Linked DNA regions of Homo sapiens. The protein of the gene in region 1 purifies or fractionates together with the protein of each later gene. This does not show direct contact. Each region holds a gene or a part of one and is shown on either strand. Other genes may lie near its edges.

Region 1 (5,468 bases):
GGCTCCTGCTCTCTCTGCACAGCACCTGTCCTCCCTTGCTAGTTGATTATCTGGGTTGTTACTGACTCATGTCTGTCCTCCTGCTAGACCTTAGAGTTTTCCAAGGCAGGGCCTACATGTCTCTCTCTCTCTGTCTCTCTCCCTCTCTATCTATCTATCCGAAACAGAGTTTTACTCTGTCGCCCAGGCTGGAGTGCAGTGGGGCAATCTTGGCTCACTGCAACCTCCTCCACCCAGGCTCAAGAGATTGTCATGTCTCAGCCTCCTGAGCAGCTGGGATTACAAGCATGTGCCACCACACCTGGCTAATTTTTGTATTTTTGTAGAGATGGGGTTTCGCTATGTTGGCTGGGCTGTTCTCGAACTTCTAACCTCAAGCCATCCTCCCACCTCATCCTCCCAAGGTGTTGGGATTACAGGTGTGAGCCACCACACCTGACCTATTTATTTAAGAGACAGGGTCTTGCTCTGCTGCCCTGGCTAAAGTGCAGAGTGCAATGGTGCGATAACAGGGACTGCAGGCATGTGCCACTCTGCCTGGCTAATTTTTTAATTTTTTTTTTTTTTTTTGGTAGAGGTAACATCTCACTATGTTGCCTAGGCTGGTCTTGAACTCCTGGCCTCAAGCAATGGTCCCACCTCAGCCTCCCAAGTCACTAGGACTAAAGGCATGTGACACTGTTCCTGGCCAATGCCATTTTTTTGACAGGCATGAAGGGCAGCTCTGACAACAGTATATCAGCTGTGCTCAACTTTGATTTAAATATATTTAGGCCCCTGGGTTTGCCTTTGTGCTAACTTGTTAAAAACATATTTTTTAAAAAGTAAAACATATACTTTGCAAAAAAAAAAAAGAGGGAGAGAGTGAAGATAAAATATAAAATGCCCTGTGATTCTTCCAGCAAGATTGCTTTGGCTGTTTTCTTAGAAATGTTTGATGCCCAGGCTGGGCGCGGTGGCTCACGCCTGTAATCCCAGCACTTTGGGAGGCCGAGGTGGGCGGATCACGAGGTCAGGAGATAGAGACCATCCTGGCTAACACAGTGAAACCCCATCTCTACTAAAAATACAAAGAATTAGCCAGATGTGGTAGCAGGCGCCTGTAGTCCCAGCTACCCGGGAGGCTGAGGCAGAAGAATGGCGTGAACCAAGGAGGCAGAGCTTGCAGTGAGCCAAGATTGCGCCACTGCACTCCAGCCTGGGCGACAGAGCGAGACTCTGTCTCAAAAAAAAAAAAAAAAAAAAAAAGAAATGTATGATGCCCAAAGAAATGCTTGCAGATCCCAGCTCTGAGCTGCAGGCCCACATGGGTAAAGAAACACAGGCTTTGGCTAAGCATGGTGGCTCATCCCTGTAATCCCAGCTACTTGGGAGACTGAGGTAGGAGAATCACTTGAGCCCAGGAGTTTGAGGCTGCAGTGACATATGATCATGCCACTGCACGTCTGCCTGGGCAACAGAGTGAGATCATGTTTCTTAAAACAAAAAAAAGTAACAGAGGCTCATTATGGAACAAATGGAAATGTAGAAAAACTGAAATAAGCCTAGGCAATATGGAGAAAACCCCATCTCTACGAACAAAACAAAAAATTAGCTGGGTGTGGTGGCGTGTGCCTATAATTCCAGCATTCCAGAGGATCACCGGAGCCCAGGAGGTCAAGGCGGAAGTGGGCCGCAATCATGCCACTGCACTCTAGCCTGGGTGACAGAGTAAGATCATTTAAAAAAAAATAAAAAGAAAAACTGAAACAGAAAGGAATGGAAAAACCCAACAATGTCTCCCTACTTTGCAACAGCCACTATTAACACTGGTATATATCTTTATTTTGCTCTCTAAATTAGAAGTCAGAGGAAATAAGGCTGTGATCACAGCACACACTCTACTTCTTCCATTTCCTACTGTAGCACACCATCCTGCTCCAATCTCAAATTCCTCACATACGCTGCTTTTTAAACCCGCATGACGTTCCACCATATGGATGTACCCAATGGTGCAAAAAGCTCATGGAGTCCACAGGGCTAGCCTTTTTCCTTTAAATAGGAGAAAGGAATAATTTTTAGTTCATCAGAACTAAAATAACCTAAATACATCAACAAGGGGCACTGGTTAAATAAATTACGGGCCATCCACAGGGAAGATGGGGCAGCCCTGAAAAGTTGAAATTTTAGACAAGCAATCAAATACAATGTTAAAGGAAAAACAAGGCCAGGCGCGGTGGCTCACGCCTGTAATCCCAGCACTTTGGGAGGCCAAGGCGGGTGGATCACGTGGTCAGGAGATCGAGACCATCCTGGCTAAAACAGTGAAACCCCGTCTCTACTAAAAATTAAAAAAAAAATTAGCCGGGCATGGTGGGGGGCACCTGCAGTCCCAGCTACTCAGGAGGCTGAGGCAGGAGAATGGTGTGAACCCAGGAGGCAGAGCCTGCAGTGAGCCGAGATCGTGCCACTGCACTCCAGCCTGGGCAACAGCGCAAGACTCCATCTCAAAAAAAAAATAAATAAATAAAATAAATAAATAAAAAAAAACAAAAGGACAGGCTATAAAACAGTATCTACAGTGTGGTTCTACTTACATCAAAATACATTTGAATTAAAAATTGTTACAAAGGCCGGGTGCGGGACCTCACACCTGTAATCCCAGCACTTCGGTAGGCCAAAGCAGGCGGATCACCTGAGGTCAGGAGTTCAAGACCAGCCTGGCCAACATGATGAAACCCCGTCTCTACTAAAAATACAAAAAATTAGCCGGGCGTGGTAGCGGGCACCTGTAATCCCAGTCACTGGGGAGGCTGAGACAGAAGAATCACTTGAACCCAGGAAGCGAATGTTGCAGTGGGCCAAGATCGCGCCATTGCACTCCAGCCTGGACAACAGAGTTAGACTTCATCTCAAATATAAAAAAAAATTGTTAGACAAACACATCGGGCCAGGAGCAGTGGCTCACACCTGTAAACCTAATGCTTTGGGAGGCCAAGGTAGGAGGATCACTTGAACCCAGAAGTTCAAAACCAACCTGGGCAACATAGTGAGACCCCATCTACACAAAATTTAAAAATTAGCTAGGCATGGCAGTGGACATCTGTAGTCCCAGCTACTCAAGAGGCTGAGGTGGGAAGATAGCTTGAGTCCAGGAATTCCAGACTGCAGTGAGCTATGATAGTGCCACTGTACTGCAGCCTGGGTGACAGAGTGAGATCCTGCCTCTGAAATAAAACAGGCCCGGCACGGTGGCTCAAGGCTGTAATCCCAGCACTTTGGGAGGCAGAGGCGGGTAGGTCACCTGTGGCCAGGAGTTCAAGACTAGCCTGGTCAACATAGTGAAACCCTGTCTCAACTAAAATACAAAAAAATGGCCGGGCTCAGAGACTTATGCCTGTAATCCTAGCACTTAGGGAGGCCGAGGTGGGAGGAACAACCTGAGGCCAGGAGTTAAAGACCAGCCTGGCCAACATGATGAAACCCCATCTCTACTAAAATACAAAAATTAGCCGGGCACGATGGTGGGTTCCTGTAATCCCAGCTACTCGGGAGGCTGAGCAGGAGAATCACTTGAGCCCAAGAGGCGGAGGTCGCAGTGAGCCAAGATCACACCACTGCACTCCAGCCTGGGCGGCTGAGTGAGACTCTGTCTCAAAAAATAAAATAAATAAATAAATAAATAAATAAATAAATAGCCGGGCATCGTGGCGCACACTGGTAATCCCAGCTACTCGAGAGGCTGAGCAGGAGAATCTCCTGAATCCAACAGGCGGAGGTTGTAGTGAGCCGAGATGGCACCACTACACTCCAGCCTGTGTGACAGAGCAAGACTCGTCTCAAAAATAAATAAATTAATTAATTAAATAAAATTAAAAAAAACAGAAAAACACCTCAACACTCAACCAGTGCTTGTCTCTGTGTTGCAGAGTTATGAGTGACTTTGGTTTTTTGTTTACCCCTCTTCTACTTCCTGGATTTCCTACCATGTACATGAATTACCTTTAAAGTTTAAAAAAAGAAGGAGTAGAAGTAATTTTATATGAAAAAGAAGGTTCAATGTTGACACTAAACAACCAGGACATTCTGGGCACCCCTCAGTTCCTGGGCCTGCCCCCATACTCACACCCTGAGCACTTCACTCAGGAGGGACCAGGAAGAGGTAGGGACAAGGAAAGACAAGAAATCACATTCAGGCTGCAGAGTACAGCGAACGGCTCCCACCTGAAAACCACTGGTAACAAATACTGGGAGATAAAAATGCTGGTTCTTGGCCGGGTGCAGTGGCTCACGCCTGTAATCCCAACACTCTGGGAGACTGAGAGGGGCGGATCACCTGAGGTCAGGAGTTTGAGACCAGCCTGACCAACAAGGAGAAACCCCGCCTCTACTAAAAATACAAAATTGGCTGGGCGTGGCAGCGCATGCCTGTAATCCCAGCTACTTGGGAGGCTGAGGCAGGAGAATCGCTTGAAACTTGGAGGCAGAGGTTGTGGTGAGCTGAGATCGTGCCACTGCACTCTAGCCTAGGCAACAAAAAAAGAAAAAGAAAGAAGAAAAGGCAAACGCTGCTGGGTGCAGTGGCTCACACCTGTAATCCCTTTGGGAGGCCAAGGTGGGAGGATCACTTGAGTCTAGGAGTTCGGGACCAACCTGGGCAACATAACAAGACCTCATCTCTACAAAAATAGAAAAAAATTAGCCAGGCATGGTGGCACGTGCCTGTGGTCCCAGCTACTTGGGAGGCTGAGGCAAGAGAACTGCTAAAGCCCAAGAGCTCAAGGCTTCGGTGAGCCATGATCCCACCACTGCACTCCGGCCTGGGTGACAGAGCAAAACCCTGTCTCAAAGAAAAAAAAAAAGGAAAAGCTGGAGCTGGAACAAGGCCTTGGGGAAGGTTAACACACTCTACACTCCAGACCCCAGAGGAAGGGGCCTGCCTCTCAGATTATCAATCTCCAGCCTGAAAAGCTTGGATCTGGTCACCCTCATCACAACATCACCCCTTGATCAAAACCCTTGGTGCCCTCAGTGTTTCTCAGGACAGGCAAGTGGAAACCCTTGCTGAGCTATCATCCACCTGCCATCCACTAAGGGACAGCCCCTTTGGTACAGCAGCTCAGGCTGGCCCTCCACATATGGGCTCTCTCCCCTTCCTGCCCTCTGCTGGGCAGGCCTTTCTCTGCTTCCTCAGTGGGCCAGCTCCACCTGGGCTTTCAGGATGCAAAGCTCTGTGGCCTTACTGTGGCCACGGGGCCTGGGAACACACTGCCTTTGTTATCTTCCAGGAGCTCTGGGGCGGCACCTGCATCCCTTTGCCAGTAGTTTGTCACCCCATAAGGGCAGAGGTTTTTTTTTGTTTTTTTTTTGAGACAGAGTCTCACTCTATGGCCCAGGGTAGTGTACAGTGGCACGATCTCAACTCACTGCAACCTTTGCCTGCCAGATCCCAGAGATTCTCGTGCCTCAGCCTCCTGAGCAGCTGGGAC
Region 2 (3,500 bases), about 11 Mb from region 1:
TCTGTTGGTGTCTCAGCATCGTGAGGACAGAAGCCCAAAACCTGACTCCCTTCCCCAGACCTGTACATTCGGGCAGCGCGTACATTCTGTCTCCCTCTCTCTCTGCGCCCAGAGCCTCAGCTCAGCTGCCTCCTTGGAGGCAGCTACCTACCTCTCCAGTCCTGTCCTGGGGCCATCGTGGGTGTGGGACAGGACCTGTGACTCTTTCCCTTTCTTGTCTAGTCCCCCGCCACACACTCACTCCCATGGTTTGTAGCCCAAGAGTCTCTGGTAGGGCTGCGATAAGGTTGTGTGGTCCTGGATGATTTTACTTAGAACCTGGGTTTCCCCTGGAGAAAGGCTGGCCAGGGTGGCATCTGAATGGGACTGCAGCCTGCTGACAGGAGGCCTGGCCACCTGTCCTGGGGAGCAGCACTGGGCTTTTTTTTTTTTTTAAGATAGGGTCTCACTCTGTGGCCCAGGCTGGGGTGCAGTGGCACTATCACGGCTCACTGCAGCCTTGAACTCCTGGGCTTAAGCGATCCTCCCACCTCAGCCTTCTGAGTAGCTGGGACCACAGGTGTGTGACTCCACGGGGCCTGAGCACCAGGCTGGATGCAGCTTTCTCTTGTAGCTTGACAGGAGCCAGGGAGGGGGATCCCACCTGGAGCTGGTATACCCAACACAGCTGTGGAAAAGTTGACCACAGGCGGCCCCTTCCGCCTGATTGGATTATTGTATGATCATTCATTAAACTGTTTCTCTGTTGTTTTTTTGAAACAGAGTCTCACTCTGTCGCCCAGGCTGGAGTGCAGGGGCGAGATACCGCTCACTGCAACCTCCACCTCCCGAGTTCAAGCAGTTCTCCTGCCTCTGCCTCAGTAGCTGGGACTACAGGCAGGCGCCGCCACACCTGGCTAATTTTTGTATTTTTAGTAGAGACAAGGTTTCACCATGTTGGCCAGGCTTGTCTCGGACTCCTGGCCTCAAGTGATCCGCCCACCTCGGTCTCCCAAAGTGCTAGGATTACAGATATGAGCCACTGTGTCCAGCCTGCTTTTTTTTTTTTTTTTTTGAGATGGAGTCTCATTCCATCACCCAGGCTGGAGTGCAGTGGCACAATCTTGGCTCACTGCAACCTCCGGCTCCTGGGTTCAAGTGATTCTCCTGCCTCAGCCTCCTGAGTAGCTGGCATTACAGGCACCCACCACCACGCCCAGCTAATTTTTGTATTTTTAGTAGAGACGGGGGTTTCACTATGTTGGTCAGGCTGGTCTGGAACTCCTGACCTCAAGTGATCCACCCACCTTGGCCTCCCAAAGTGCTGAGATTACAGGCAGGAGCCACTGCGCCCGGCCTTGTTTTGCTTTCACAAGGCTTTATCTTTTGAGCAGTTTTAGGTTTACAGAAAAATCCAACAGAATGTCCAAAGAGTTGCCATGCCCCTCCTCTCCCATCTGGCACACAGTTTTCTATTCTTCACGTCCTGCATTAGTGTGGAGCATCTGTCACAATTGACAGGATGTTGATACATTATTATTAATAAATGCATGGTTTACCTTCCGGTTCCCTCTTGGTGGTGTACATTCTCTGTGATTACAGTATCATAAGAGTAGTTTCACTGCCCTAACATTTTTCTGTGTTCCCCCCTACTCATCTCACCCTCTTCCTACCAAACCCCTGGCAACCACTGATCTTTTACTGTCCCCTTAGTTTTGCCTTTTCCAGAACGGTCTATAGTTGGAATCAGACAGTATGTAGCCTTTTCAGATTGGCTTCTTTCACTTAGTGCAATATACATTTAAGGTTCCTCTGTGTCTTTTCACAGCTTGAGAGCATATTTCTTGCTTGTTTTTTAAATTATTTTATTTTATTTTATTTGAGATGGAGTCTCGCTCTGTCACCCAGACTGGAGTGCTGTGGCATAATCTTGGCTCACTGCAGCCTCTTCCTCCTGGGTTCAAGCAATTCTTGTGCCTCAGCCTTCTGAGGAGCTGGGACTAAAGGCACACACCACCATGCGCAGCTAACTTTTGCATTTTTAGTAGAGATGAGGTTTCACCATTTTGGCCAGGCTGGTCTCGAACTCCTGACCTCAGGTGATCTGCCCGCCTCAGCCTCCCAAAGTACTGGGATTACAGGCGTGAACCACCGCGCCCAGCCTGTTTTTTAAATAGGGTGCTGTGTTGCCCAGGTTGGTCTTAAAACTCATGACCTCAAGCAATCCTCCCTCCTCAGCCTCCTAAAGTGGCTGAGAGCTCATTTTTTTTTCAGCACTGAATAATATTCTGTTGTCTGGATATACCACACTTTTATCACCTGCTGTTTCTTTGTTTTTTATGATTATTATAAAAGAGATAGCTAATCATCATTAAATGTATATCAACCGAAAAGAGAACATTTAAAAAAATCCCTGAGTCCCTCTGTGGGGCATTTCATTCTATGTTCTACTATGTTCTTTAAATTTTTTTTCTTGTACATTCTTTCTAGTCCAAATCATATTCTTCTGGAAACAGAAAAGGCTTTCTGTCCGGCTTGCTAGATAATGTCAAACAAGAATTAGCCAAAAACAAAGAAATGAAAGAAAGTATAAAAAAATTCCGTGACGAGGCCAGAAGGCTAGAAGAATCAGACGTGCTCCAGGAGGCCAGAAGGAAATACGTGAGTTTCTTTGCTGCTTTTTTTTCCCTCACCCAGGCTGGAGAGTAGTGGTGCGATCTCGGCTCACTGCAACCTCCACCTCCCAGGTTCAAGTGATTCCCCTGCCTCAGCCTCCTGAGTAGCTGGGCTTACAGGCGCGCACCACCACGCCCAGCTAATTTTTGTATTTTTAGTAGTGAAGAGGTTTCACCATGTTGGCCAGGCTGGTCTCGAACTCCTGACCTCAAGTGATCCGCCCGCCTCAGCCTTCCAAAGTGCTGGGATTACAGGCGTGAGCCACCGCGTTGGGCCCCTTTGCTTCTTACCTTTCTTGGTTGACATGTTTGTTTCCAGGGCCAGGGTTTCTCCAGGCCAGGGACAGCCAGAGGAGCTCAGGGCTGGACGGTTGGGGGCAGGGTGGCTCGTGAGGAAGTGAGGTCACTGCTCTGATGCACTAATGAGAGGGAGCCAGGGGACAGGTGCGGGTCTCCAGGCCTCTGGGTTCTGCCATGAGACCATGCAGCGTTCTGTGCAGCTTGAAGCGTGGTCCCCAGACCAGCAGCAGTGGCTCCTCCTGGGAGTGGATGAGCAGTGCAGAGGCTCACACCCTCCCAAACTGCCAGGCCAGCGCCCGCATCTTCACAGGCCCCCAGGCAACGCATGCACACCAGCTATGGGATGCAGCGCTCCTGAGAGCTCCCAGCTGTAGCCCTCTGAGTGGAGCCTGGTGGAAACTGGGTGATGGTGCTGGTATTTTATTTTATTTTATTTTATTTTATGAGATGGAGTCTTGCTCTGTCATCCAGGCTGGAGTGCAGTGGCGTGACCTTGGCTCACTGCAACCTCCAGCTCCTGATTCTCCTGCCTCAGCCTCCCGGATA

What was found. Proteins that work in one complex are often made in the same cells at the same time.
Region 2: the proteins of SUGP1 (region 1) and TIMM44 fractionate together in Homo sapiens (co-fractionation; one large-scale study listed by BioGRID). This does not show direct contact.

Annotation. Positions count from the first base shown.
Region 1 is NC_000019.10:19,310,502-19,315,969, forward strand, and holds part of SUGP1 (SURP and G-patch domain-containing protein 1), read right to left. Parts: intron 1-5,468.
Region 2 is NC_000019.10:7,937,167-7,940,666, reverse strand, and holds part of TIMM44 (mitochondrial import inner membrane translocase subunit TIM44), read left to right. Parts: intron 1-2,469; coding exon 2,470-2,640; intron 2,641-3,500. UniProt on the Homo sapiens protein: Essential component of the PAM complex, a complex required for the translocation of transit peptide-containing proteins from the inner membrane into the mitochondrial matrix in an ATP-dependent manner.